Homo sapiens: one gene and its partners. The protein of the gene in region 1 purifies or fractionates together with the protein of each later gene. This does not show direct contact. Each region holds a gene or a part of one and is shown on either strand. Other genes may lie near its edges. The genes, in order: SMNDC1, IFT88, SF3B6, CHERP, ITSN1, CDK5RAP3 and TSR1.

The links.
Region 2: the proteins of SMNDC1 (region 1) and IFT88 purify together in Homo sapiens (co-immunoprecipitation; one large-scale study listed by IntAct). This does not show direct contact.
Region 3: the proteins of SMNDC1 (region 1) and SF3B6 purify together in Homo sapiens (co-immunoprecipitation; 2 studies listed by BioGRID and IntAct, with this or other methods). This does not show direct contact.
Region 4: the proteins of SMNDC1 (region 1) and CHERP fractionate together in Homo sapiens (co-fractionation; one large-scale study listed by BioGRID). This does not show direct contact.
Region 5: the proteins of SMNDC1 (region 1) and ITSN1 purify together in Homo sapiens (co-immunoprecipitation; one large-scale study listed by IntAct). This does not show direct contact.
Region 6: the proteins of SMNDC1 (region 1) and CDK5RAP3 purify together in Homo sapiens (affinity purification with mass spectrometry; one large-scale study listed by BioGRID and IntAct). This does not show direct contact.
Region 7: the proteins of SMNDC1 (region 1) and TSR1 purify together in Homo sapiens (affinity purification with mass spectrometry; one large-scale study listed by BioGRID and IntAct). This does not show direct contact.

The regions. Positions count from the first base shown.
Region 1 is NC_000010.11:110,289,729-110,292,819, reverse strand, and holds the end of SMNDC1 (survival of motor neuron-related-splicing factor 30), read left to right. Parts: 3' UTR 1-2,090; downstream 2,091-3,091. UniProt on the Homo sapiens protein: Involved in spliceosome assembly.
Region 2 is NC_000013.11:20,570,007-20,574,251, forward strand, and holds part of IFT88 (intraflagellar transport protein 88 homolog), read left to right. Parts: intron 1-3,014; exon of another isoform or gene 3,015-3,145; intron 3,146-4,245. UniProt on the Homo sapiens protein: Positively regulates primary cilium biogenesis. Also involved in autophagy since it is required for trafficking of ATG16L and the expansion of the autophagic compartment.
Region 3 is NC_000002.12:24,066,646-24,070,511, reverse strand, and holds the end of SF3B6 (splicing factor 3B subunit 6), read left to right. Parts: intron 1-2,052; coding exon 2,053-2,191; intron 2,192-2,660; coding exon 2,661-2,750; 3' UTR 2,751-2,926; downstream 2,927-3,866.
Region 4 is NC_000019.10:16,532,261-16,536,505, reverse strand, and holds part of CHERP (calcium homeostasis endoplasmic reticulum protein), read left to right. Parts: intron 1-869; coding exon 870-1,054; intron 1,055-3,357; coding exon 3,358-3,495; intron 3,496-3,756; coding exon 3,757-3,908; intron 3,909-4,245. UniProt on the Homo sapiens protein: Involved in calcium homeostasis, growth and proliferation.
Region 5 is NC_000021.9:33,886,445-33,890,689, forward strand, and holds part of ITSN1 (intersectin-1), read left to right. Parts: coding exon 1-16; intron 17-1,707; coding exon 1,708-1,856; 3' UTR 1,857-4,245. UniProt on the Homo sapiens protein: Adapter protein that provides a link between the endocytic membrane traffic and the actin assembly machinery. Acts as a guanine nucleotide exchange factor (GEF) for CDC42, and thereby stimulates actin nucleation mediated by WASL and the ARP2/3 complex.
Region 6 is NC_000017.11:47,977,613-47,981,857, reverse strand, and holds the end of CDK5RAP3 (CDK5 regulatory subunit-associated protein 3), read right to left. Parts: intron 4,027-4,245; coding exon 3,948-4,026; intron 3,030-3,947; coding exon 2,941-3,029; intron 1,266-2,940; coding exon 1,060-1,265; intron 696-1,059; coding exon 524-695; intron 422-523; coding exon 356-421; 3' UTR 272-355; coding exon of another isoform or gene 124-271; 3' UTR 77-123; downstream 1-76. UniProt on the Homo sapiens protein: Substrate adapter of E3 ligase complexes mediating ufmylation, the covalent attachment of the ubiquitin-like modifier UFM1 to substrate proteins, and which is involved in various processes, such as ribosome recycling and reticulophagy (also called ER-phagy).
Region 7 is NC_000017.11:2,329,413-2,333,657, reverse strand, and holds part of TSR1 (pre-rRNA-processing protein TSR1 homolog), read left to right. Parts: coding exon 1-101; intron 102-533; coding exon 534-697; intron 698-1,298; coding exon 1,299-1,489; intron 1,490-2,548; coding exon 2,549-2,711; intron 2,712-3,032; coding exon 3,033-3,143; intron 3,144-3,287; exon of another isoform or gene 3,288-3,379; intron 3,380-4,182; coding exon 4,183-4,245. UniProt on the Homo sapiens protein: Required during maturation of the 40S ribosomal subunit in the nucleolus.

The DNA of each region.
Region 1 (3,091 bases):
TGGTGGAAGGGGAAAATAAGTTTTTATTTCATGAATTTTAATTTTTTTTATAAATTGAAACTTAGGACAGTGGTAGGTAGAATTCTTCATCTCTCCCTTCCACACCCACCCCTCTCAACCCAGGAGGGTCACTTTTTCTTCATATAATTCGTGGCCACAGGGTAGGACACAAAGGACAGAAAGGCACAAACTGCAGTAGAAAAAGGGTTTGTTGAAGCCTGTAAACTTCTAAATAAAATATACTTTGTTATTGTAACATCTTAAGAGCTTATCAATAATCAAGAGTAGCCTTGATGGATTGCAAGAGAATCCTTTGAATTAAAAAGCACTGGGAAGAAATTTGGTGTCATTGTGTGACCCCAGAAAATGGTTGTTGAGATTACCTTGGTGGTATTAGAATAGTAATTCACTTGATGTTTGTGTAGGCAGGACTGTTAACAGTCTTGTCCCTCTTTTGACCCTGGGGGGCCTTAGTTTTCCCAGAGGACTTTGCAGTAGGAGAGAGAAAAAGAATAAAAGTGACCTTAAAAAAAAATGTTTTGAAAATAGACCTTTAGAATGAAATCAGCAACCTTTGTGTCAAAGATCTAGATGTGGCCCTTTGGAAAATCCTAGTGTCAGGATGATGTTTGTGTCTCTGAACTAAGAGGCAGGACTCCTGGGGAGACTACCTGTCACAGTGTGATACTGAATTTGAGAAGATGCTCAATGAGAAGCATGATACCCACAGTATTTTACAGTTGAAGGTGGTTAAGCTCTCTATATTCTGAAACAAAATATAAACCTTGACCTTAAAAAGCTTTGTTAGAAAATTTAATGTAGAGTTTTCCCCATTAAGAAAGGAGACTTGAAGCTTTGAAACTGTGACAGACTGAAATGTTAAATATTGAGTTATGGGCCCCTAAGTAGAAATGGTTGCATGTAACTTACCAAAGCTTGACGTTTGACTGTTGTTACCATTTCAAGGAAAGAACAGTCCTAACCTCCCGAAAATAAAATGTTGAGTTTTAGTGGTAATCACAGGTAACAAGTGCTATTTTAATTAACATGTAGGGAGGCCACAGAGCATACTGGAAAACAGCAAGGACTCTAGAGCCAGACTAGTGTTTGTTTATTACCATTTATTACCTGTGTATTCCCATTTATTACCTGTGTATTCCTCTGATTCATTTTTCTCAGCTGTAGAATGGAAAAATCTGTTTCAGTTTTAAGGATTGAATTCAAATGTGTAAATAGCTTAAGAGTATCCGGCATAAGCACTATAGAAGCGTCTGCTATTACTCTGCAGAGTGGCAGTGGTGAATTATCTGATATTTTTTCCTTAACTTGAATAGCAATCCACATTACAATGGATAACAATACCCATTGTTTATGATTTGAGGCATCCAATTATAACTGTATTATTGAAGTGTTATCAAATTACCAAGGCTGTAGGGTATATTTAGTATTCCTAGTTAAAGGTTTGAACTAATTTGTATACTAGGGCATGTTTCTTAATGGGAAGGGGGTGAAGGTTATAATAAAAGTCACCCCTAATGCTTGTTTAAAATTAAAGAGGAATTTGTGGGCCTGGGACCAACCTTAGACTTATCCAGGCCAAGGTATGTTGTTTGACGAACACCGCAGGTGATCCTGATGTGCATCCCCGTCTGAGAACTGTTAACTATAAAAGTTTGACTTTGGAAATGAAGAAAAATTACCTTTTAGCCTAATCATGAAGACTAGGCGTCAAACCAAAACAAGATGCATCAGTTACTGTAGCAACACATTTTTTTTAAAAAATTGCTTGTTGTCACAATGAAGGGTGTGTGTCTGTTTCCAGTATGCAATTCTAATGCCAAATGTCTGCCTTAAAAATAGCAAAGGAGACCATCAGGTTAACATAAAGGAAAACTGTAGTTGTGTGACTCATGTGTCTGTAGATTGTAATTTTATAATTACAATTTTTATAAGATAAAAAACTACCAGTTGTAAATTCAACCAAAAAAAATTTAAAGCTTTGATTTAGCTTTTTGCTTTAACTTGGGTAGTAACTGAAATATAAAGGAAGAAAATCTATTAAAACCAATGAGGTTTTATATTTTTTTAAATCTTGATTCAATAAATATCAGCTGAATTAAGTATCTGTATGGTACTACGAAGCAATCAATTAGTATAAATGGCAATTTACAAGTTCAACAGTAAATGTAAACATTCTTTGTATCTAGGATTTTTGAGTTGCAAGTTAAACTGAATTTTTACTGCAGTAGAGAGGAGGAGCATAGCAGGCAAAATAACAGGTAATACTGTATTTTAAACAAACAGAAAAACCCAAGTAATTGGCGCCCTTTATCCAATCATCTTTTAAAAGGCCTATGTATGTGTATAGTTATGTTCTTAAGAAACATCTTAAGAGGTTCAGAAATCAATTTTATAGATGGAACATTTTAATAATTCGTTTTGGCCTAGCCAAAAGAGTAAAATAAAACAAAATAGTGTTAGATTTCTGTGAGGTGTTTTAATTGCCTTTTCTGCCTTTTAACTTATGTATATAAAGGTGGTTCTTTTGTGGCCTTGATTGGGGTAAAGCAGAACTGAGAATAATAGGGGTTTGTAGTAGTTGACAGCTGAACTAGCTAAAAATACGAAGTTTTGGATATTTAATTAATCTTTCAGTTCCCAGGCAACAAAAACTGGAAACTTAGTTCCACCACACACCTTACCAGTTCATTTAAAACAAAACCAGTATAGTCACTGGAATTATTTAAACTGTAATTTGTTTCTCCACTTAGTCTTTTTTAAGAATACGGCTGAAAGAGCCATGGTGATAATCATTAGGAGAGAAGGTTGGCATTTTGTTTGAAGAGCTACTTTCTCAACTTGGGGCTGAAAGTTATGGTTGTTGTTTGCTGGCTCAGGATTTACCTTTCTTGGTAAAACTGATGTGCTTTTGTTTTTTCCCCTTTCAAGCCCTGTACTTACTTTAGCAAGATGCAGTGAATTTCTGACCAGAGAAACAAAGAATTCAGGCTTGGAGGAAACACTTGACTCCATATCCTGGGAAACTAGAGTTGAAGCCTGAGATCTGAAGCTAGGCTAGTAATCACTTTAA
Region 2 (4,245 bases), on another chromosome or scaffold:
CTAGCCTAGGCGACAGAGCAAGATTCCGTCTCAAAAAAAAAAAAAAATGAGCAAAAGATCTGAACAGACATTTCTCCAAAGAGATATAGAAATGGATAATAAGCAGATGAAAAGATACTCAACATCATTAGTCATCAGGGGAATGCAAGTCAATACTACAATGAGATACCATTTCATACTCACTAGAATTGCAATAATCAAAAACAGGAACAGTAACAGATGTTGGCTAGGACATGGATAAATTGGAAACTTCATGCATTGCAGGTGGGATGTAAAATAGTGCAGCCACTTTGGAAAACAGTCTAGCTGTTCCTCCAAAAGTTAAACATAGAGTTACTATATGATCCAGCAATTCCTTTACTAGATATATTCCCAATAGAATTGGACCTATATATGCATGCTAAAACTTGTACACACACATTCATAGTGATGTTATTCATAAAAGTCAAAAAGTGGAAACAATTCAAATGTCCATTAACTAATGAATGGATAAGCAAAATGTTGCAGATGTATTTAGCCATAAAAAGTAATGAAATATTGATACATACTACTGCGTGGATGAACCTTGGAAGCATTATGCTAAGTGAAAGAGACCAGACACAAAAGGCTACATATTGTGTAATTTCCTTAATATGAAATGTCCAGAATTGGCAAATCCATAGAGACAGAAAATGGTTGCCAGGGACTGGGGAAAGGGAAGGGAGGCATGGAGAGCTGCTAACAGGCCCCATATTTCTTTATGGGATGATGAAAGTGTTCTGGAATTACATACTGGGGATGGTTGCACAACCTTGTGAATATACTAAAAACCACTGCACCTTGAAAAGTTAAATTGTATGGTATATGAATTATAGTTCAAAAACTAATAATTTTGTTAGTATTTAAAATATATAAATAATTTTTAAAGGTTATGAGAAGCCACATATATGTGGTATTATGCTGAGAAAAAGATTAAGCTGAAAATTTATTTTTTATTTATTTATTTTTATTATTTATTTATTTTTTGAGACAGAGTCTGGCTCTGTCGCCTAGGCAGGGGTGTGGTGGCACAATCTCGGCCCACTGCAACCTCCGCCTCCCAGGTTCAGGCCATTCTCCTGCCTCAGCCTCCTGAGTACCTGGGATTACAGGTGCCTGCTATCATGCCCGGCTAATTTTTTTGTATTTTTAGTAGAGACGGGGTTTCACCATATTAGCCAGGATGGTCTCGATCTCCTGACCTCGTGATCTGCCTGCCTCGGCCTCCCAAAGTGCTGGGATTATAGGCGTGAGCCACTGCGCCCAGCCTAAGCTGAAAATTTCTTAGGAATTTGCTGGTGCACTTAAAATGTACAGGCCTTAAGAAAATATGTATTTGCTTTAAAGAAAATACATTTCTTGAATACTAGCAATACTACATTTCTTGGGTAATTAGCCTTCCTCCACCTCCCACCCCTCAAATTGCCTAAAATATTGACTTGATTTGAATGATACTTCCAGGAATCCTTGCCAGATTCTTTAGTAATTATTAGATTTACAGTATATCTATATGGTAATTTCATTTCTCCCATGCTTCTGTCCAAGTCAAAATGTAGAGATGAATCTTGAAATTTTACATTTTTATTTGGGAAGAAAGAATTGCAGTTTGAGGACCAGGTGGTCTTTGGTATGTCCAAAGAACAAAGAGAAGGTTGGAGGTTTATCAAAAGGAGAAGTGTCATGTAGTGCTCTTTGAGAAAGTTCACTGGAACTAGTGAGGTTCTGGGAAGCTGGCAAGTTCTAATTGGTGGGTAGCTGTGGTGGGCACAATTAGTCCTATATTTGCAGCAAGTTATCTCAGCAGCTATAAATAAAATTGGCCTCAGGTTTTAGCAGCCAGTTTCAGCAGCCAGACTTGCAGAGAATTCCATTCTTCAAGCAATGTTATGTGTCCTGAGTGCCTCCCCACCAACACACCCCAGCTTCTTGACTCTGTTTTAGTTGGGTATGACAAGAATGACTCAAATTTGTATGATCAGCTTTCACTCTTCTGTTTCATTTTGCTTTGATATCTTTTTTTCTGTCTTGCATTTTTTCCCTCAACATTTCATTATGAAAATTTTCAAACATGCAGCAAGGTTTAAAGAATTTTATGTTGAATGTTACTCCTGCTACCTAGATTCCACCATTAACCTTTTTCTATAGCTGCTTTATCATGTACTTATCCATTTACCTATCTCTCAATCCATCTATCAAGCCATCTTTTTTTTTAGAGACAGAGTCTCACTCTGTCACCCAGGTTGGAGTGCAGTGGCATGATCTCAGCTCACTGCAACCTCTGCCTCCTGGGTTCAAGCGATTCTCGTGCCTCAGCCTCCCAAATAGCTGGAATTACAGATGTGCACCACCATGCCCGGCTAGTTTTTGTATTTTTAGTAGCGATGGGGTTTCACCATCTTGACCAAGCTGGTCTCAAACTCCTGACCTCAAGTAATCCACCCGTCTTGGCCCTCCAAAGTCCTGAAATTACAGGCATGAGCTACGGCGCCCGGCCTAAGCTGTCTTATTTTATGTATTTTAAGCTAAATTACAGCTATTACATGTTCCCTGAAATAACAGCATGCGTATCAATTATATAGTTCAATATTTGTTTATAGTTCTTACTTTTGAGGTAAAATTTACAAAGCAGAAATCGCAGTGTATATTTGCTGAGTTTTCACAAATGCATACACTTGTGCGACTCAAACCCCTGCCAAGATACAGAACATTTATCATCACCCCAGAAAATTCTCTCATGTCCCTTTCCATTCAATCCCTAACCCCCATCCCCAAGAAGCGATCTCAGTTCTGATGGTTTTCTACCGCAAATTAGCTTTGCCTGTTTGAGAACTTCATATAAAGGAAACAGTGCATAATGTACACTCTATGTAAGGCTTCTTTCACTCAGCATAATTGGGATTCTTTTTTATTGCTGGATAGTACTTCATTGCGTAAGTATGCCACATTTTGCTTGTCCATTTTACTGATGGGTATCTGGTTTGTTTCTGATTTTTCAGTATTATGAATAAAGCTATGACAAAGAAAAGAAAGGTTTAATTTGAAGAATGAGACTCTCCTCTAAATTACCAGGTCCAGAGAGGCGTGGGAGTGAAACAGCAGTCACATCTCCTTTACCTTCTTGGGCTAAGTAATCATGTCTTGAAACTTGCTTGCTATTGCCATAAGTAGCTATAAATTAATCTAACAATGGCACTGTCTGGATACTATAACCCATACAATGTAGCCAATCACTAATCAACGTTATTTTTTTAAACCAGTGAGAATTTCTGACAGACAGCTTTGTATCAGCCCACTCCCTGCCCCACTTTTTTGCCTTTAAAGATCTGCTTGAAACAAAGGCCAAATGGAGCGCCTGTCCAAGGTTACATGAAGTCTGAGTGTTCTGGGCAGGCAGCCGTCCTCATTTTGGCTCAAGTAAACTTTTTAGAATTGTATTTTATGCCTCAATTCCTTTCTTTAGGTCGACAGCTACTATGAACATTCTTATACAAATCTTTTTGTAGACATATGTTTTCATTCCTCTTGAGTAAATATTTTTGAGTGGAATTGCTGGGTGATAAAAGGTACTTTTAATAAAAGTTAATTTTATGAAACTGCAAGACTTTTCTCCCAAAGTGTATCATTTTACACTCCCATCAGCAACGTGTGAATACTCTGGTTGCTCCACATTTTTGCTGACATTATGTGTTGTTGGTCTTTTTAATTTTACACATTCTGATGGGTATGTGGTGGCTTCTGCCTTGCATTTTAATTGACTGTTGCATACCTTTCTTCTGCACTTGATACTAAGCTTCCATGAAAATCAGGACAATCAATTGTACCCCCTCTAGTGCCTGTCACTGTTCTTTCAGTGTCGTAGTTGTGAAATAAATGTGAAATGAGGACAATAACTTAATGTTTTGACATCTAGTTTTGGGAATTTGATGTGAAAAAAATTGAAGCCATGAAAATATATATAGATAAATTTGACCACAAATGTCATTAAATAGTTATACTTTATTGGAATTAAGAATTATTTCTGGCCTGGCGTGGTGGCTCATGCTGGTAATCCCAGCATTTTGGGAGGCCAAAGTGAGAGGATCACTTGAGCTCAAGAAATTGAGTCCAGCCTGGGCAACATAGGGAGATCCCATCTTTACAAAAAATTTCAAACTTAGTTGGGTGTGGTGGCACAAGCCTATAGTACCAGGGAGGCTGAGGTGGGAGGATCACTTGTGCCAGAGAGAT
Region 3 (3,866 bases), on another chromosome or scaffold:
CACTGGATACATGAAGCATCCGAAGCTCACAGAGGCTAAGTTACACGCTTAGGTGTTCTTATTCCTACTCTAAGATTTTAATGCCAGTCAAGAAAATTGTAGCACTTTGGGAGGCTGAGGTGGGTGGATCACTTGAGGCCAGGAGTTCGAGACCTGCCTGGCCAACATGGCAAAACCCCATCTCTACTAAAAATACAAAAATTAGTCGGGCATGGTGGCGCACACCTGCACAAGAATTGGTTGACTCTGTCTCAAAAAAATAAGAAAATAATGTTAGCTCAGTGTCCAATACGTGGTAGGTACAGATACATGCTTTTAAAAGTTCAAATTATAATATGGCTCTCAAGGTGTGAGGTTGATAATTAGGGCTGGGACACTTAAGATGGAGAGTCTTTAAAGTGGGGTTAGTGTCTATCCCTATTCTAGTTCCTAAGAAGATATAAGAGGAAGAAAGAGAGTTGCTTTGTTTAGTTTTGTTTTGAGCTTCCTGAACAAAGTGTGTGTGAGAGAACTGATAGAAGAAAGTAGATCTCCACTTTTCAAAGGCGTATTAGCGTCTGCCTTATGCGTGGCACTAAAGGAATAAATGAAGTACGCATAAGATCACCTTTGCTCTTAAGGAACTGAAAATCTTATTAAGTTTTTAGAAGTCAAAAGTCTGAAAGTTGTTAAGACTTGCCAGAGCCTAAAGAACATTCTAAAACCCCTCGTCAGGCCCACACAACCTGACAAAGTGAGCGCATTCATTGACAGTGGCACCCTCCAATCACCCCCAGTACCCTATTCCTTTTCAATTTTACAGGAAGCACAAGCTTGAACAGGGCCCAGACTATAGTCCTATCCTAGATCAAGTCTAGGCAGGTACCTCCTCTTCCCATGGCTCCACTGCTTTTATTCAACCCTATGTAAGGACTGTGGCAGATGGAGAGTCAGCCCACAGTCTTAAACCTCATTCCACAGTTGCACTGGGTGGTTGGAACACAGATGGAGGCAAGGGGGCCATCTTGTCACCCAGAGCCTGAACTGAGTGGGACCTCTACCCATTGTCTCCACTAACAGTCACATGGCCACCTGCTGCCTGCAATTTAGCGTTGCGTTGCTCCTCAAACTTCTCTACCTCTCCCAGAGGAAGTTGGTGAGGTGAAGGAAGGAAGTGGCCAGGAATAACTACACTAACAGCAACCTCGTATCCATAAGTAAGGTTAGCTTCCACTTCCAGCCACCTTCCAGCATTCTGCCCTGGCTCACTGATAACCCTATCCACAAGCACACTTCCACTCCCATCTTTGCAGAAGCCTAGCCCTTCTCCCTAGCCACACAGCTGTATCGTGCATTAGCACTTGAGTTGTATTAAAAATGAATGTAGACCGGGTGTGGTGGCTCATGCCTGTAATTCCAACACCTTGGGAGGCTGAGGCAGGCGGATCACTTGAAGTCAGGAGTTTAAGACCAGCCTGGGGAACATGATGAAACCCTGTCTCTACTAAAAATACAAAAATTAGCTGGGCATGGTGGCACATGCCTCCAGTCCCAGCTACTTGGGAGGCTGAGACACAAGAATCACTTGAACTTGAGAGGCAGAGGTTGCAATGAGCTGAGATTGTGCCACTGCACTCCAGCCTAGGCAACAGAGTGAGAGTCTATCTCAAAAAAACAAAAACAAAAACAAAAACAAAACAAAACAAAGACAACGTAGAGCCAGTCAGGGTGGCAAGAGCACCTGTAGTCCCCACAACTCACGAGGCTGTTCTGTGTAGTAGCTGTGTTCTTAGTATTCCTGATGTGACAGTCAGCTTGACCTATGGATATTTTAGTTAAGATAAAAACGAAGAACAAAATTACCTAATTCAAGAAATTACAGGCTTATCCGGTATATCTATCCATGTTTATTTCCTCTGATGGTTTCAGGTTGATTTCAAAATACTTAACTAAAAACGTATTTCAATTTACTGTTTTTAAAAGACAGTTACCAGTTTAAAAGACAGTTCTGTAAGTCAACTATCAATGCTCAGGTAAATGTATATCTTAATTAAGTTTAACTTACCTCTCCAGGGGGAACACACCTGAAACTAGAGGAACAGCTTATGTGGTCTATGAGGACATCTTTGATGCCAAGAATGCATGTGATCACCTATCGGGATTCAATGTTTGTAACAGATACCTTGTGGTTTTGTACTATAATGCCAACAGGGTAAGTATAGCAAAGTTCTCATTGTGTAGTGATCTCATTTGAGAATTAGTGTAGAACTGGCCGGGCGCGGTGGCTCATGCCTGTAATCCCAGCATTTTGGGAGGCCGAGGTGGGCGGATCACGAGGTCAGGAGATCGAGACCATCCTGGCTAACACGGTGAAACCCCGTCTGTACTAAAAATACAAAAAATTAGCCGGGCGTGGTGGCGGGCGCCTGTAGTCCCAGCTACTCGGGAGGCTGAGGCAGGAGAATGGCGTGAACCCCAGGGGGTGGAGCCTGCAGTGAGCCAAGATCACGCCACTGCACTCCAGCCTGGGCAACAGAGAGACTCCGTCTCAAGAGAATTAGTGTAGAACTGTACTGTGATGATATATGTCTACTATGACTTTCTTTTTTGGCTAATGCTATTGATGAAATTCATTTGGCTGTAGATTGGTAATTTAATTTTGGTGCTTACCACATTTCCAGGCATTTCAGAAGATGGACACAAAGAAGAAGGAGGAACAGTTGAAGCTTCTCAAGGAGAAATATGGCATCAACACAGATCCACCAAAATAAATGTTTTCTACATTTTCATTTGGACTAAATCCCACGAATGACAACTACCACCTTTTTTTCCTTTTTAATTAATACTAAATATTGTGATTTCTTATTTGAGGTTCAAAATGACCTGCTTGAAACTTTGATACATATTGGAATACATTATGTTAATAAACTTGTAGCTTTTTGTGAAACACCTCAGTCTTTTCTCTTGAACTTTCCCTTCCTGTTTGATACCAGGAAAAAACAGTTGAAGCTTATCAAGAATTGTAGGTGCTCCTAGGGATTCTGAGTTTCTTGAGAACAGGATCTCTTTACATTCTTAATGCCTCCAGGGCCCGGTGCAGTGCTTAGCCATCAAAGGAACTTGCTGTTTATTGCATGTCCATTAATAATGAAATCTTCATAACAACTCAGTGAAGATAGGTATTTGCATTTTGCAGGTGAGGAAACCAAAGTTCATGATGTTGGTTGAATGAATAAAATGCTAACATACAAAGCTGGTGTGATAACAACCAGTTATTAACCAAGCCTTTACATTTGAATAATGCTTGCTTTATAGTTAACAAAACACCTGTGTCAATATGGGTACCCTTGTCTTTAGAACAGAGGTCTATTATAGAAATGGTCATTTAGATGATAGTACATTGTTAGAAACTTAGATTTGCCTCTTTAAATTGTTTTTTAATTATTATGGGTACATAATAATTGTCACATTGGTAGAAATTTGAGAGCAAGCTGCTTGGGTAGTGGCGTTGGTTGTTACATGTCTAAGATTGTATTTATGTAGACTTTTCCTTTAGTTATTAAGTATCTGTAGGTATATTGGACCTTAGCTCATAATATATCTTTGCCATAAATACTTAATGCTCATTCTTATTATCATGAGTTCCCATGACATGGAAACAGTATGGTTATTACCCCATTCATCATCATGGCAGCTTGGGAGAATATAGCCGTAATTTGCTTTTTATTGCTTAGGCATGGACCAAATGGAAAAACATGGACTAATTGTTTTGTGTGTGATTGGAACCTAAAATCAATTTGAAGGTACATACACTGAATCACTTCAATGTACAAAGAGCATCAATTCTGCTTTTAATTATATCTGAGTGTTTTTTGAAAGCAGTGTAA
Region 4 (4,245 bases), on another chromosome or scaffold:
GACACCCCACCTCCCTTATCTTTGGCTTTGTCCTGGTCCCCTTGGAGTGGGGCTCTGGAGGGCTCCAGGGGTACCTGGTCACATTTAGACCAGGCGGCCCCAAGACGGAGAGAGAGGCAGGTCATCTTGTCCAGGGCCTCCTTATGAGCCGGGTCCCTTCCTCAGAGACCTCACCACCTGCCCCATCTGGCCAGAGTTGGGACCTGCGCCCACCCTGACCCAGGCTTCTGCCGGCAGAATGGGTGTCTCACTGCTGCCTCAAACTGGATGCACCCCTGAATGCAGAGGGGTCTCTGTCCCCAAGGGCTGGAGAAGCAAGGAGAGTCAGTAGAAGGACAAGGCAGGTGTGGGGGAGGCCGCAGTGTGCGCTCGGGGGTGCGGCTTCGTGCCTTTCTGGCCAGATGTGCAGAGGCCCGGTGGCTGTGACATCTTAACAGTCAATGGGTAGCTTAAGTGGCAGAGGTCAGGGAGTGGCCGAGGAGGTCGGAGGATGAGAGGTACTGAGGCCTGGGTTCTGCATCAGGTGGGGCCTAGGTGGGTGAGGAGGTGGGCAGGCAAGCTTAGCTTGCACCGGAAGGACACTGCGCAAGGACTGGATGGTGCTGGCGAGAGAGCGGCCAGGGGACTTCCTAGGTTCTCCGAGGAGGGGACGGCCCGAAGATGGAATGCTGAGGCTGGGATCCTGTGAGAGGGAGGGCAGGACCCGAGACTAGGAGGAGCTGGTTTGCGTGGGCATGAGGCTATGAACAGGCCCTCGTGGATGGTGAGTCCCTGGGGAGGGGGAGGCCCCTGTGGCTGAGAGGTGGCCAAGGGGACACCTAGACCCCCATCTGCATTCTCATGGGGCACCCCTCCTCCTCTCCCTCCAGTCATCTGCAAGCAGCAGACCCCGGAGCTGGAGCCAGCCGCCACCATGCCACCCCTGCCACAGCCCCCGCTGGCCCCCGCCGCGCCCATCCCGCCGGCCCAGGGCGCGCCATCCATGGACGAGCTCATCCAGCAGAGCCAGTGGAACCTCCAGCAGCAGGAGCAGCACTTGCTGGCGCTCAGACAGGTATGGGCCCGCCGCCTCCTCGGCCAGACACCAGCAGCTCCCCTGTGCCTCTGTTTTTGCGTCTGCTCATCAGAATGAATAACAGGTGTCAGTGAGGACAGGGCCCCCCCTGCCACCCAGGGCTCGGTGCATGTCAGCCACTGTCACCCCCAGCCCTGATGCCAGACACAGAGGCTGCTTCTCATCTCAGTGAAGCCACTGGACGTGCGTGCACCCATCACCCTGGGGTGGACCCCCCTGAGTGGGACTGTGGGGCACGTATGCACCTTGAAGCTCCCTAATGGCTGTGGCCAGGCAGCCTCTGGTGCCTACCATTGGCCCCACCACACAGTAGCTAGGTCACCTGGAGCTGTTGGTTGGGGAAGGACCCTTTTTTTTTTTTAAGTCTTGTTCTGTCGCCCAGGCTGGAGTGCAGAGGCGTGATCTCAGCTCACTGCAGCCCCTACCTCCCGAGTTCAAACGATTCTCCTGCCTCAGCCTCTGGAGTAGCTGAGATTACAGGCATGCACCACCACACCCGGCTAATTTTTCTATTTGTAGTAGAGATGGAGTTTCACCAGGTTGGCCAGGCTGGTCTCAAATTCCTGACCTCAGGTGATCCACCTGGCCAGAAGGACCCTTTTGTCCTTCCTGGTCCAACAGTTTGATAACTTTCGCCAAATAGAATACAGGTGCATTGGCTGGGTGTGGTGGCTCACACCTGTAATCCCAGCACTTTGGGAGGCTGAGATGGGCAGATCATGAGGTCAGGAGTTCGAGGCTAGCCTGGTCAACATGATGAAACCCTGTCTCTATGAAAAATACAAAAATTAGCTGGGCGTGGTGGTGCACGCCTGTAATCCCAGCTACTTGGGAGGCTGAGGCAGGAGAATTGCTTCAACCTGGGAGGAAAAGGTTGCATGAGCTGAGATTGCACCACTGCACTCCAGCCTGGGTGACTGAGCAAGACTCAGTCTCAGAAAAAATAAATAAATAAAATACTACAAGTGCATTGCCAGAAAAATGAGAGGAATAGAATACCAAACCTCCAAAACACCAACCCCACGCTCAGTACTAGGTTCAGGGCATAAAATCACACTGTCATATTGCTCTCAGAAAATTCCAGCTGGGCACAGTGGCTCAGCCTATAATCCCAGCACTCTGGGAGGCCAAGGCAGGCGGATCACAGGGTCAGGAGTTTGAGACCAGCATGGCCAATATGGTGAAACCCTGTCTCTAGTAAAAAATACAAAAATTAGCTGGGTGCAGTGACAGGTGTCTGTAGTCCCAGCTACGCGGGAGACTGAGGCAGAATTGCTTGAACCCGGGAAGTGGCGGTTGCAGTGAGCTGAGATTATGCCATTGCACTTCAGCCTGGGCGACAGAGCGAGATTCCATCTCAAAAAAAAAAAAAAGAAAAGAAAAGAAAGTTCCAGAATGCTCACCCTCAGCTTCTGTTCATCATGGAGTGGGAGGCCTGCCTTGACCAGCCGTAACTGACCGCTGGTCCGCATGGCAGCTCTGTTTTTACCAGTCGCACTTTAACCGGTGTTTCCTCTTGAGGAATGAGATTGCCCCCTTCTTGCTTCACTAGAGGCCATGGGTGTATCCTCTTCTTCTATTGCCTGTCGTTCACACCATGCCTCATTTGTCTTTTTTTTTCTTTTCTTTTCTTTTTGTTGTTGTTGTTGTTGTTGTTTTGTTGTTGTTAGAGACAAGGTCTTGCTGTGTCACTCAGGCTGGAGTGCAGTGGTACAGTCACAGCTCACTGTTTAACTTTGAACTCCTGGGTTCCAGCAATCCTTCCGCCTCAGCCTCCCAAGTAGTTGGGAACACAGGCACACACTACCATGCTCAACTAATTTGTATTTTATTTTTTGTAGAGATGAGGTTTCGCTACGTTGCCCAGGTGGTCTGGAGCTCCTGGGCTCAAGCGATCCTCCCGCCTCAGCCTCCCAAAGTGCTGGGATTACAGGCATGAGCCACCGCGCCCCGCCTTTGTTTTTTGTTGAGTTGGTTTGCAGAGGTTGTTTGTTCCTCTGGGCTGCAGTGTTTTCCTTGGTTACCTGGAGGGCAGGTGTTGTCTCCTGGTATGTCCTGTCAGTGCCCTGCCCACTCCAGGAGGGACTGTCACAGATTCACGGCAGGCATGAGAGACAGAATCTCCTCCTGCTGGGGACAAGCAAGGGAGCTGATGGCCAGAGCAGCCCAGAGTCCGGGCATCGCCACCATGTCCCCACCCCGCCCCTGCTGAGCCAGGCCGGAGGGCTCAGGCTGCGGGTCCCTCCTCATGTGTTCTCGACCCCACCGACCCCCGCCCGCAGGAGCAAGTGACAGCGGCCGTGGCCCACGCGGTGGAGCAGCAGATGCAGAAGCTTCTGGAGGAGACCCAGCTAGACATGAACGAGTTTGACAACCTCCTGCAGCCCATCATCGACACGTGCACCAAGGACGCCATCTCGGTGAGGGGCCAGCACTTCCCAGAGCCCAGCTTTCCCTTGGTCCCTCCCTGAGGCAGGGCCTGTCGTAGCCAATCTGGGCTAAGGGCTGTTACAATGGGTGCCCTTCCCTCCCGCCTGGAGCTCCTGAGGCTGTGGGACCCTGTGCCCCCCACGCTCATGGTGTGTCCTTCCCTGAGCTGATGGTGACGCGCTCTCAGGGATGCAGTGGGTGCCTGGGGGAGCCGCGGCCCTGCTCACTCGTCATTGGCTCGGTTGTTGCAGGCCGGGAAGAACTGGATGTTCAGCAATGCCAAGTCCCCGCCGCACTGTGAGCTGATGGCCGGCCACCTCCGGAACCGCATCACGGCTGATGGGGCACACTTCGAGCTGCGGCTGCACCTCATCTACCTGATCAATGACGTGCTGCACCACTGGTGAGCGCCGCCACCCCGTGCCCAGAGCGCCACTTCCTCGCGCTCCTCCTCAACCCTCCTGGGTGGCCGCTTGCTCCGGTCGGTAGCTTGGCTTGGCCTGTCCCGAGACTAGGGGGCACTTGTCCGGGGACCCCGGGTGGGGGGTCTCTGTGAGCCACCAGGCTTCTGTCTCCAGGACTGCGAGGTCTAGGTGTCCTGTGCACCTTCGCTGCATGCCCTGTCCTCTCCCCTAGACCCCGGCCTCACCTGTCACATTGCTGTCTCCTGGGGGCCACTGTCCCCTGCACTCCTTCCTCTCATGGGGCAGCTTCTTGGCGTCTCCTTGTTGCCTTCTCAG
Region 5 (4,245 bases), on another chromosome or scaffold:
CAGTTCTCACCAGATGGTGAGTGGAACGCGGCCCTGTGGTTATTCCTCCTTCCCTGGCACTCGTTTGCGTGGGTTAATGTTTTCTTACCTGGGGACTTGGTGCCAGGATTCCTTCGGTTTCCCTCCTGAGAGATGAGGCTGGCTGGCACAAGACGAGGCTCTGTCTCCCCTGGAGGAGTCTTCTGGAGGCGTCTCATTGCATGTGGACAGAGCATGCTTGGTCTAGAATTGTGCCAGCTGCCCTGGGCAAACACGTCCATCTTCTGCTTTCCAAAGCAGGTGACTGTGGAGAGGGGTGTGTTTAAGAGCCTCAGCATAGTTCTTCAGTCCTTGGCAAAAAGCTGTGCTGGCAATGGATGAAACTGGCCAATGGAACAAGGATGTTAGCCCACAACAGGAGCCGCAGAATGGGCCAGGTCCCTTTGGGTGGCATTTTTGTACCACTTATTAAGTAGGCAAAGGGATGCAGTCATGTTGAATGAATCATTTCTTCAGCCAGCCTTCTGTTTCTGCTTGGGCCTGGAAAAGAATAGTCTCAGCCCAATGATTCCAAGAAACTACCTGTCTCTCCCTCAACCCAATAAAAATCACCGGTGGGCATGGTGCTGCAGGCCTGGAATCCCAACACTTTGGGAGGCTGAGGCAGGAGGATCGCTTAAGCCCAGGAGTCTAAGACCAGCCTGGGCAACATAGTGGGACCTTGTCTCTACAAAAAAATACAAAACTTAGCCAGGCATGGTGGCATGCACCTGTAGTTCCAGCTACTCGGGAGGCTGAGGCAGGAGGATTGCTTGAGCCTGGGAGGTCGAGGCTGCAGTGAGCCATGATGGTACCACTATATTCCAGCCTGGGCAACAGAGCAAGATCCTGTCTCCAAAAAAAAAAAAATCACAGAGTAAGTTAAAAGATTATGGTCTCAACTTAATTATAACCGAAGAAGTGAGGGTCAAATGCTAGCATTATCTGTACAAGGTTTAAATGGCTCCATATGGCCTTCATCTTTTAGTACTTTTTATATGAATTATCTCATTGTGAGTTAGGTACTCGTTGTGGTAGCTGGTTAAATGTTTGAGTGTGACTGGAACAGTTTGGCTCCCAAGTCTGGGCTCTTAACTACTATGTGTACTGTCAACTTCTAATTCTTTTTTCTTTTTATTTTTTTTATTTATTTATCTTTTTTCTTGTTGTTCTCGCTCTGTCACTCAGGCTGGAGCACAGTGGTGCAATCACAGCTCACTGCAGCCTCCACCTCCCAGGCTCAAGCAATCCTCCTGCCTCAGCCTCCTAAGTAGCAGGGATGACAGGCATGAACCACCATGCTAGGCTAATTTTTAAAAATTTTTTGTAGAGACAGGGTCTCACTCTATTGCCCAGGCTGGTGTCAAACTCCTGGACTCAAGTGATCCTCCTGCCTCGGCCTCCCAAAGTGCTGGGATTACAGACGCGAGCCACTGTGCCCGGCCACCTTCTAATTCTGAGAGATAAAGGTTGGGGTTGGGTTTTTTTTTTTATTTAAGTAATGAAATACCATGACACATTGGCAACTCCGCTGGGGAGCGAGTTGGAAATCCTAGTGTTGGTTTACATCAGAGCCCAGAGAAGAAGGGAGAGCATAACAGTTCATCAGGGGGTCCCCAATATGCCAGACATGTGCCTCGAAGAGAGGGAATGGTCCCTCTTAGGAGGGTCTGTTTGTTCTCTTTTCAGATTTTTTGGGTCGGACGGAGATCCGTGTGGCGGACATCAAGAAAGACCAGGGCTCCAAAGGTCCAGTTACGAAGTGTCTTCTGCTGCACGAAGTCCCCACGGGAGAGATTGTGGTCCGCTTGGACCTGCAGTTGTTTGATGAGCCGTAGGCAGCGGGCTCAGGGTGTGCTCAGCAGGGTCCCAGCCCACGGCCACACATGCTGTCTGGAAATTGTATTCCTTTTCTAAGAAACCACCATTTGGTATTCAGTCACAGGGATATGGGATGGCAAAGACAGGCCCCTCAAAGCTCCTAGGAATCATTCTCGACAATCCTCCCTGCCCCGAAACAATTTCCTGTTTCATGAAACAAAGCTGTGTTTTCCTTTGTCCTCACTACAGGTCTCATTATGGCTTCTAGGGTCGCTGAAATCCCATAGCCCTCAACAGGGTGCAGCTGGGAGTCTAGCCCCTTCCCGGGCTTGAGGGATGGGTCTGGTTACTATAAAATAGATTTATAAATGCAATGTCTATATTTTTGGAGAACTCATGTAACCCTCCTGTTTCTTACATCCACCAGTCCCCAAGTAGACTTCTTGGCCTACAATGCCCAGTCCTTGGTGTGAGTTTAGAAACAATTATGACGGTCCTGTCATTGCTTCAGAATCCCATCTCTCCTGCAGGGAAATGCTGCCTAGAGCTGATCACTCGGTGAGACGGTCTGATCAGGCCCTGGCTTAGCTCTTTGAAGAGCTGGTCTATGGAAGTTTCCAGCATGTGCACCGTTATAGCCGTTCCTTCCCCCTCTAGGCCTTGTATTAATATATGTCAATGAAAACACACTGGTGTATTGTTGCGTGGATTCAGTTCTGATTCCCAGCATGCTTAGAATATGGTCACAGAAAGTCATTATCTAGAAAGTCACCCCTCTGCTGGATCAGATCACTACAGGTCACTGGAAAGGCAACTTTACAATGTTGGGTCACTGGGTCTCGGTTGGCAGCCATGTTGGAAAAATCTCTTTTGGCTCGGAGGCCTGTGATATTTCATAGCAGCAGTCGTTGCTGGTGACCTGTTCTGTGCTTGAATGTGCTGAATCCTGATTGTTGTAGGACATTTCAACAGCTCTTTTTGGTACGTTCCCCAAAAAGCCATGTCCTAGATCCCCAAGGCGTGAAAAGGAAAAATATCAAGCTGGAGGTTGGGAAAGAAAATGAAGGCAGTCCATTATGTGGTGGGTGAAAGACCCTAGGAGGATGCAAGCCCCGCACATCCCGGGGCAAAGACCTAAGACACTTTTCCACCCTCCACCACCCCAACCTCACATAATATGCTTGTTGCAAGAGTCAGGACTTTATGACTATGTGCCAAGCTGTTTGGTTTGAGTTCTTTAATTTTTTTTTCCCTTAAATGCCAGGAGATCATCTGGTTAGTTAGATAGTAACTTGATTTGCTAATGAAAAGTGGGGGCCGTGTTTTGTTTGCATGTTAATATTCTCATAATCCTAGTTTGTTGTGGTCATGAAATGTCCTTTGCATGTTCTGTTGGTACTGGAGTCTAGCTTTCCTGTACTAGATGGTGTTCTCTTTGATTGTAGGTCCTTAGACTTTAATTAGGGTTATCAAAGTGCTTTCTAAATGATAGCATCAGCGTTGTGGCAGAGTACCTCCTTTGCTGGGAACTGAATGTGTAGTGTTATCATTTCCCATGAGAGCCCGGTCATACTTCAAGCAATTTTTTTAAAAGTGTGTGTTGGAAAGGACAACAAAGTTTACATTTCATACTTTTAAGAAATACTTTATTATTTATTTATTGAAGATAGTGTAGAATTTTGTATCAAGAACAACAGACATAAGTATTTTTTGAAACAAGCAAATATACCCTGTAGTTAGAAACTTTCAACTGAACATGTTAGAGACCAAGTTTAACTTCAGGCATGCATTTGTTTACCATTTCCCAGCAGAAAACATGGTTAAAATACTTTAAGTTTATATTTTTTGATGTTGTTAAGAAACTTTTAAATTAAATCTATAAATAGACATGCAACTCATGCTTTCCTATTTCTATAACCAACACCGTTTGTTTAGTGTATTTATGAAAGATATGCTACCATGGTAGAAAGAAAAGTATTCAATGTGTAAATGGGGTAGTGTGGGTCACCATTCCGATCTCTTTTTGTTTTCTGTCCTGTCTTTTCTTCATTGACTTTATTTGCGTGTTAATGTTGGACATCATTGTTCATGTAGGTAGCGTATGGTATGCACAATGACAAACAATCGTTTTAGGTCCCAGGTCACCCACTCATAGTGTCCTATTATTGGAATTAATGTAGCATGAGAAAGCAATATGTGACTCTTTTTCCTCAAGTGACTCTGTTGAGCATCCTTGAGATGCTCCTGCCATGTAGCAAGTTCTGGATTAGTGTCCTTGTATTTACTGGTGTAATTTGTAATGTAACCAATTGTCCGTATGGAGGAGTCGGGCTGGCCCTCGGACCCAGCTGTGATTCATGAGTTGTGTCACAGGGATTGAGAAACATGGGTGATGCATGGAGTCTC
Region 6 (4,245 bases), on another chromosome or scaffold:
CTGGATCAAGAACCCCACGAAAACAGGTGCGAAGCCTCAACTGCAGGCTCAGAGAAGCAGCATAAGGAACTGTCAGTACTGAAGCAAGAGTTTTTTCCTCTTTTATTAAGTCCGCTATACTAACTAGAAGGAGAATCTGTGGTTTTCGCCTGATAGACCACAGGGCCAATCACCACAGCTTCTTGTAGAGAACATGGAGAGTGCCAAGATCACCATCAGGTGCCGCTTCCTTCCTGTGGCTTTCCATCTTCCAGTCAGCCTGGTCTTTTGCCTTGAAGGGCCCCAAAACAACAGCCCTGGCTATCATCTTCATCCCAAAAGCGGAGAAGATGGGCAGGCAAGAACACGGAGGGTGTCACAGAGAGGTTCCCATCAGGTTCACAGGGCGCCCGCTGTACCTCTTGGAGATGTCAGCTTCAATCTGAAAGAGTGATACCAAGTGGGCAGAAGCAGGGGTGCTCAGGGCCTCATTTTGCACAGACTGGGAGTCCTCCCACTGGCAGGCCTCCCTTTCCCATCTCACCAGCTTCTGCAGCTCCTTGGTCTTCTCCAGTAGCAGGTCCAGCTTAGGCTCCAGAGCCGCCTGCTCCTCAAGTGCCTCCTGCTGCTTCTGCACCATCAGCTCTTTCTTCAAAGCCAGCAGCTGGGACTGCTTCAGCTTTTGCTGGAGGAATTCAGTCACTCGGTCCACATACCTGTGCGGGGCACTCAGGTGAGTGCTGGGTTAGCTGTGCATCCTGAGCATTCCCATTCAGCTGCTGGGGAGGTGAGAGGCTCGGGAAACCAAACCCCCAACTGGCCGCTTACCCTCACATCCTTAAACCCTTTCCTTTTAAGGAAAACCCACTCCCAGTTCCCCTGTCCTACTCAGGAAGCAAGCAGATTCTTCCTGTATATGTGAAACCTCCCCCTCTTGTCCCAAAGAGAACCCCTATCCCCAGTGGATGGCAATGGCCAGGAGGCAGGGATGGGGTTTAAGGGGTCATGGAACAAGAGGAGGAATACAAGGAGGCAGAGCTGCTCAAGATGGCAGAGCCTTGCATCAAGGGGAAGCCAGACCTTGGTGAGGCCAGGATCATAAACAGGTGTTGCAGCTGAAGACTGGTAAGCTTGCCAATCAGATCCTCCAGCACTGACACCATGGTAACCATCTTCTCTTTGGTCTGGCCCTGCAGGATGGCTGGAGCCAGCTGGAACTGGCTCACAGACAGGACATCTGCCTCCTCACTCAACTCCACTGCTCTCTGGGCTAAGAAGATCTCAAGCTGAGGACAGAAGAAAGATTGGTTCAGGCTGTACATGATGGCTCACACTTGCAATTCCAGCACTGTGGGAGGCCAAGGCAGGAGGATCGCTTGAGGCCAGGAGTTCAAGACCAGCCTGGGAAACGATGAGACCCTGTCTCTACAGAAATGTTTAAAATTAGCCAAACATGGTGGTGTATGCCTGTAGTCCCAGCTACTCAGGAGGCTGAGGCGGGAGGATCACTTGAGCCCAGGAGTTTGAGGTTATAGTGAGCTATGATTGCTGCACTGCACTCCAGACTGGGCGACAGAGAAACTCTTTTTAAAAAAAAAGGAAGAAAGAAAAAAAGAAGATAAATTGGTTCAAACTGAGAGAAGAACTCAGAATCTAAGCCCTCGGACTACTCGAAATGCAAAAATGAGACATGAGGGCTAGACTCTGGGTAAGGAGTTTCCTCTGAACACTGTAAGCGCTAGGAGAGACTACTGTCACCCTTCAGTCCCCACCTCCTATCTCATCCTAACCCCAGACCTCTGTCCTTTCTCCCCAGCCTGGGATCAGATAACTGAGAATACAGAGACTCAAAGGGTTCTCTCTGCCCAGGGAAGGTATTTATTTTGTCTCCATGGGAGGAATGAGATTCAGGGAACAGAAATACATGTTTGAGAAGCACTGGATTAAGGCAAGGCTGAAAAGAATACAAGAGCCAGCCATATTAACTTATCAATCCTATTCTGCCGTTAAAACTTCACAGATATCTTTTGTCCTCTCCCCTTGAGGCTGGGAGGAGCCTCTGGGCAGAAAGAGGAGAGAACTGGGTGAGGACAGAACTTTCAGGAGGCTCTCCGAACCAGCAGGCTACTGGGAAGGGAGCAGATACAGAGATTAACAAAGACAGGACCCCGTCCTCCCAGCCTTACAACAAAGGTCCAAGAACGCTGGCTCCTTACGCTGGGCTGCTCAACACCTTAGCCACAGGGATCGTCCTTAAACACAAATGAGATCATGTTCCTAACCTGCTCGAAACCTCCAACAGCTTCCCAGTTCACTCAGAGGCAAACCAAGGTTCAGACGCTACATCTCTGAGCTCTTCTACTCCCCACCAGCTCTCTCTCCTCAGCCACACCAGCCTCCATGTTGCTGGTCAACTGTGCAAGGTCTGCTCCCACCTCGGGACCTCTGCACTTGCTCTCTCTGCCTGGGAAGCCCTTCTGCCAGACATCTGCATGGTTCTCTCTGCACCGCCTGCAGTCTTGATTACAGGTCACCTTCTCAATGAGGCCTTCCCTGACCACCAGATACAAAACCATAGCCCTTTCCAACATCCTCGTCATCCTCCCCTACTTTCTCTTTCTCCGTGGCATTTGGTGCCATCTAGCATCCTGCATATTTTATTTATTTATCTTCTTTCCAGTCTGCATTCCCCATTAGAATATAAGCTCCATGAGGTCAAGGACTTTGACTGTCTTATTCACCACCCAAGTTCTGGTGCCTAAGGTAGTGCCAGGTGCCTAGGAGGTACCTGATAAGTAACTGGATGAATAGGAGGCATCTAATACGTGAGGCTCCTGCTGTAGGACACAAATAGCACTCACACCCTTCACACAAACAGGAGGGGTCAGGTCAGGCATCTGGAGTGAAGCCACCTGTGCTGGTGCCATGCCTCCCCCCTGCATCTTCCAGAGATGACAGTACCTCCATGAGCTCATCAAGGAACTGATTCCGGGTCTCAGTGTATTCAAGCAGTGTCAGGGCATCTGGGCCCCTGGCAACACCTTCTGGAGCTGCCAGGAAGAGACAGAGAAGTGATAAAGGATCAGAGGACTGGAGAAGGAAAAGACCCTCAAGTGTGAGAAGCCCTGGAGGATTAATACGGACAGACTCACTGTGCTAAAGCCACTTCTTGTTCTAATCCAAGGGGGAAGGCTACCTTGTCCCAGGTGTCTCAGCTCTAATCAGGTACCACTTTCCAACTCCCAGACTGAGAGGAGGACCAGAGCTGGGTTCAGAGGGGTAGAAAGGCCGGCTCTCTGCTCTGGTGGACCGCAGGAGGTAAAGTTTCATCCTGCACCGCCCTCTAGTGGCTCAGACACCACTACGTCTTCTCTGCTGTTGGGGCGGGGGTCATGTCACACTCCAGGGCCCCGATCCCCCTAGAGCCCTCCTACCATAACAGCTGGCCCACATGTGGTCTCTAAAAAGTTGAGAGTTTCTAAACTCTCAACTTTTAAGAACCTCTCTTGGGCCAGGCACGGTGGCTCACACCTATAATCCCAGCATTTGGGAGGCCGAGGCAGGTGGATCACCTGAGGTCAAGAGTTCGAGACCAGCCTGACCAACATGGAGAAACCCCAACTCTACTAAAAAAATATAAAATTAGCTGTGCGTGGTGGTGCATGCCTGTAATCCCAGCTACTCGGGAGGCTGAGGCAGGAGAATAGCTTGAACCCAGGAGGTGGAGGTTGCAGCGAGCTGAGATCATGCCATTGCACTCCAGCCTGGGCAACAAGAGCGAAACTCCGTCTCCAAAAAAAAAAAAAAAACCTCTCTTGGTCCCCCTCAGCTCACATCCTCATCAAGGTTTTGAGAAACAGTTAAATGTGCAAGAAGCCTCATCTTAGCGCTGCATTTTTTGTTTCTAGACACGTGGGGGCCCTTGAGCACCCCACTTTTGCCAGGGCTGCAGGGGATGGTGCACTTACCCTGGGTTCCTGCTTCCAGCACTGTGATCTGCAAAGCAACAGCATCGTCTCCCCAGTCTATCCCATCACCTCCAGGATCCTGGAAGGAGAGCAAAGAACCACAGCAATGGGGGGAGAATTTTCCTGAGCCAAGGAGCCAGAATAAACCAAAGCCCTTGATGAGGTCAATGGCTGCACATTCCAACTCTATTAAGGATTTGCAGCCCTGACTTAGGTGCCAAAAATGGCAGTATGGCCCATCATCCCTGCTCTGTAGTGTTCCCACCTGCCTTTACCCCTACACCCTGTACCAAACACC
Region 7 (4,245 bases), on another chromosome or scaffold:
AGACCCTGGTAGACAGGAATCCTTGCAAGCAGAGGTTATCCCAGATCCAATGGAGGGAGAGCAAACCTGGCCCACTGAGGAGGAGCTGAGCGAGGCAAAGGGTCAGTATTGGTAAACTTGTCTGTAATTCATCTGACCTGGAATTGTGGATTTTCTGTAGCTGTTCCAAGTGAGGGCCCTATAGGATAGAGTGGGGTGGGGGTATAGTTGAAAGTCTCTCCTCACCCTCAAATGCTGTATGTTTTCAATAAACAAACATTATACACAGTCTTGTTCCATTTCTCAAAATTACTTGTGTTAATGTTTTATCATGAACAGATAAACAACTTTGGATTCATTGCAGGGCTTATTTAGCTGTGTAAGTATTGCTAGTTGTGAGGCAGCTGAATTAAATTTGGAAGTAGTTCTATTTACAGTGTCTGCCAGAATTTCCCATGTTGGCAGCAGTATCTGGTGCCTTGCCTAGGTGAGAATAACCAGAGGGATAGGGAAAAGAAGTCTGTAATTTACTTAATTTGTTTGGGCTTTTACAGATTTCTTGAAGGAAAGTTCTAAGGTGGTAAAGAAGGTCCCCAAAGGAACATCCAGTTACCAAGCTGAATGGATTTTGGATGGTGGCAGCCAAAGTGGTGGGGAAGGAGATGAATATGAATATGATGATATGGAACATGAGGATTTTATGGAGGAGGAATCTCAGGTAAGGAAATGAGGCCTTAGGCCAATTCTGTGTCTAGCTCCAAATGTAAGGCAAAGTGCAGGTGTGATCTTGATGGGTGTGTGTGGTTAGTTTCTTTTTTTTATTTTTTTTATTTTTTTTTTATGAGACGGAGTCTTGCTCTGTTGCTCAGGCTGGAGTGCAGTGGTGCGATCTGGGCTCACTGCAAGCTCTCCCTCCTGGGTTCACGCCATTCTCCTGCCTCAGCCTCCTGAGTAGCTGGGACTACAGGCGCCCACCACCATGCCTGGCTAATTTTTTTGTATTTTTAGTAGAGACGGGGTTTCACTGTGTTAGCCAGGATGGTCTCAATCTCCTGACCTCATGATCCGCCTGCCTTGGCCTCCCAAAGTGCTGGGATTACAGGCGTGAGCCACCGCACCCGGCCGTGTATGGTTAGTTTCTTAGGAATGACTCTGTAGTTGCCAGGAATGAGGCTTTTGTTTTATACTTTAGACTGTATTAGAATTTATGTTGGTTGGGAATAGGGATCTAGTACAATTATTTTACTCTTAGCTTATTGGCCTTTGGGGTAGAGACAGGTGTGGATTTCTTCTGAAAAAACTGTAATCCTATTCTACAGGATGAGAGTAGTGAAGAAGAGGAAGAATATGAAACTATGACTATTGGGGAGTCTGTGCATGATGATCTGTATGATAAGAAAGTAGATGAAGAAGCTGAGGCAAAAATGTTGGAGAAATATAAACAAGAAAGACTGGAAGAGATGTTTCCAGATGAAGTGGACACGCCCCGTGATGTGGCTGCTCGAATTCGGTTAGTCAACAAGTCTATCAACAAATCTAAATTCAGTCAATACGTTTTTAAAAACTTGGCTCAGAGCTGTGTCACTGTGATGCAAAAGAAGAAAAACACATTTTTTCTGCTCCTGAAGAGCTAACATTTAATATGGGAAGGCAGGACATACATACGGGAAATGGTCATATGTAATTAAGTTCTAGACTGTGGTGCAGACTCACGTTACAGGACTTGAATGAAGGGGAAATACTAAGGTTAATTAGCAAATACTTCTTCCCAAAGGAGCCAGTACTCAATTGAAGTATATAATGTTTGGAAATTTTAGGGGGTTTGGGTAGAATAGCAGAAGTAGAAGAGTGAAGAAGTAGATGATTATATCTGTTCTGGAGGTGAGTGACTAAAGCCAGTGAATTAATTTTGGATATTAGGAGGTAAGGCTATGTATTAGGCCATTCTCGCATGGCTATAAAGAAGTACCAGAGACTGCATAATTTATAAAGAAAAGAGATTTAATTGGGTCATGGTCCTGCAGACTGTACAGGAAGCATGGTGTTGGCATCTGCTCAGCTTCTGGGGGTGTCCTCAAGAAACTTACAATCATGGCAGAAGGTGGAGGGGGAGCAAGTCATGTCACACGGCCAGCGCAGTAACGAGAGCAAGGCAGGAGGTGCTACACACTTTAAACAACTAGATCTCATGAGAACTCACTCAACAAGGAGGGTGGTGCTAACCCACTCATGAGAAAACCTCTCCCCTAATGCAGTCACCTCCCACCAGGCTCCACCTCCAACACTGGGGATTGTATTTCAGTATGAGATTGGGGCAGGGAGACACATCTGAACTGTATCAGGCCATTACCAAGCATCTTTTTTGTCAGTGAGAAGCTTGGGTTTGGTTCCGATAGAACTTGTTATAAGCTGTTCGGAGTGTCGTCTTGGTTTAAGCTGTTGGGTTGTTTGGAGAGAGGATGATTGGAGTTCTTTTCAGCTAGCTCCTTAGCCATTTTAGCAGTGACTTGAGTCTATATAGCACCATATAAATCTGACTTAATGTCTTTAAAAATCTTCAATATTCTAGATTTCAGAAATACAGAGGCCTTAAGAGCTTCCGGACATCTCCATGGGATCCTAAGGAAAACCTTCCTCAAGATTATGCTCGAATATTTCAGTTTCAGAACTTTACTAACACTAGGAAAAGCATCTTTAAAGAGGTTGAAGAAAAAGAGGTTGAAGGAGCTGAGGTATCTATCCTCCTTGTTCATCTTGTATGTTGCTTTCATTTGTCAACATGCTCCCTACTTTATTCCTTCTCTTGGCATGAAAATATGCTGCATTTGGGGATTAGGGGAGCCCCTGAGTCATTGATTAGAATGATACTGGGAACAAAGAGGTATCAGCTATGTTAAATGAAAAAGTGTGATCTGGGTAAATGAAGCATCTTGAAGGATGAGGGTTGGCTTTAAAAATTTTATCTGAGAGACTCAACATATTTGGAGAAAGCTTCCTCGCTATTGGGACTTTGAAAGGTAACTCCATGATTGCTTTCTGCTTTCTTGTGGCAGGTTGGCTGGTATGTCACACTTCATGTCTCTGAAGTCCCCGTCTCAGTGGTCGAGTGCTTCAGGCAAGGAACACCCTTGATTGCATTTTCTTTACTACCTCATGAACAGAAGGTAAATTGCTGTCTTGTGGGAAAATGGGGGGTTGTGAAACTTTCCAGCTGCTTCTGACAGTCTAAAATTCTGTTTATGTGTGACTAAAATTTTGCTCATTGGGATGCAAAAAGTCTGCCTTTATGATTAGGAATTGGAGAATAATAGAGAAGTCAATGATGGTTTTATTCATATCGTCTGAACCTGTCTGAAGCATCTCAGTGATGCAATCTCTGTGTGGTTCTGAGACTTCTCCAAGTATGTTTTTCAGACCAGATTTTGAATAAGGGTTGGCAGCCTTAAAAATAAAGGTTTGGCTGGGCGCGGCGGCTCACGCCTGTAATCCCAGCACTTTTTGGGAGGCCAAGGTGGGTGGATCACCTGAGGTCGGGAGTTCGAGACCAGCCTGACCAACATGGAGGAACCCTGTCTCTACCAAAAATACAAAATTAGCCAGGCGTGGTGGCACATGCCTGTAATCCCAGCTACTTGGGAGGCTGAGGCAGAAGAATTGCTTGAACCCAGTAGGCGGAGGTTGTGGTGAGCCAAGATTGCACCATTGCACTCCAGCCTGGGCAACAAGAGCGAAACTCTTATGTCAAAAAAAAAAAAAGTTTATGCCAAAGTGCAGATCTCTTTTCTCTTGGTGGCCAGTAGTTGTGTATGTTGTGGGGTATGTGATAGTTCTTTGATCGGTTTTGGTAAGGGCTCAAGAAGAAGGGGCTTGAATGAGTGTGGTTTTGAGATTGTGGTGAGTGAATGCCTTGAAGGCCACTGATTTTTGTGTGGCAGATGTTGAGCTCTTTTCTGTTAGGTGCAGGAAGGTAGGTTAGCATTGAAGGGTGCATGAAAGCTCTGATCAGCCTGTGTTTGGCTTAAATGCCAGTCATTGGTGGAGGTAAAGGATGAACCCGTGTTTCAGCATCTACACTCCACCATTAATTAGCATTGTCAGTTCTTAGAATGAGTCTGAATCTGCTAGTTTGGTTTGCCTTCTTTCAGTTTAGGCAATTGTATTCCTAGACTATGAAGATTTTTGTTTTTCTTACTTGGTCCCCAGATGTCAGTATTGAATATGGTGGTGAGGCGTGACCCTGGCAACACTGAACCTGTGAAAGCCAAG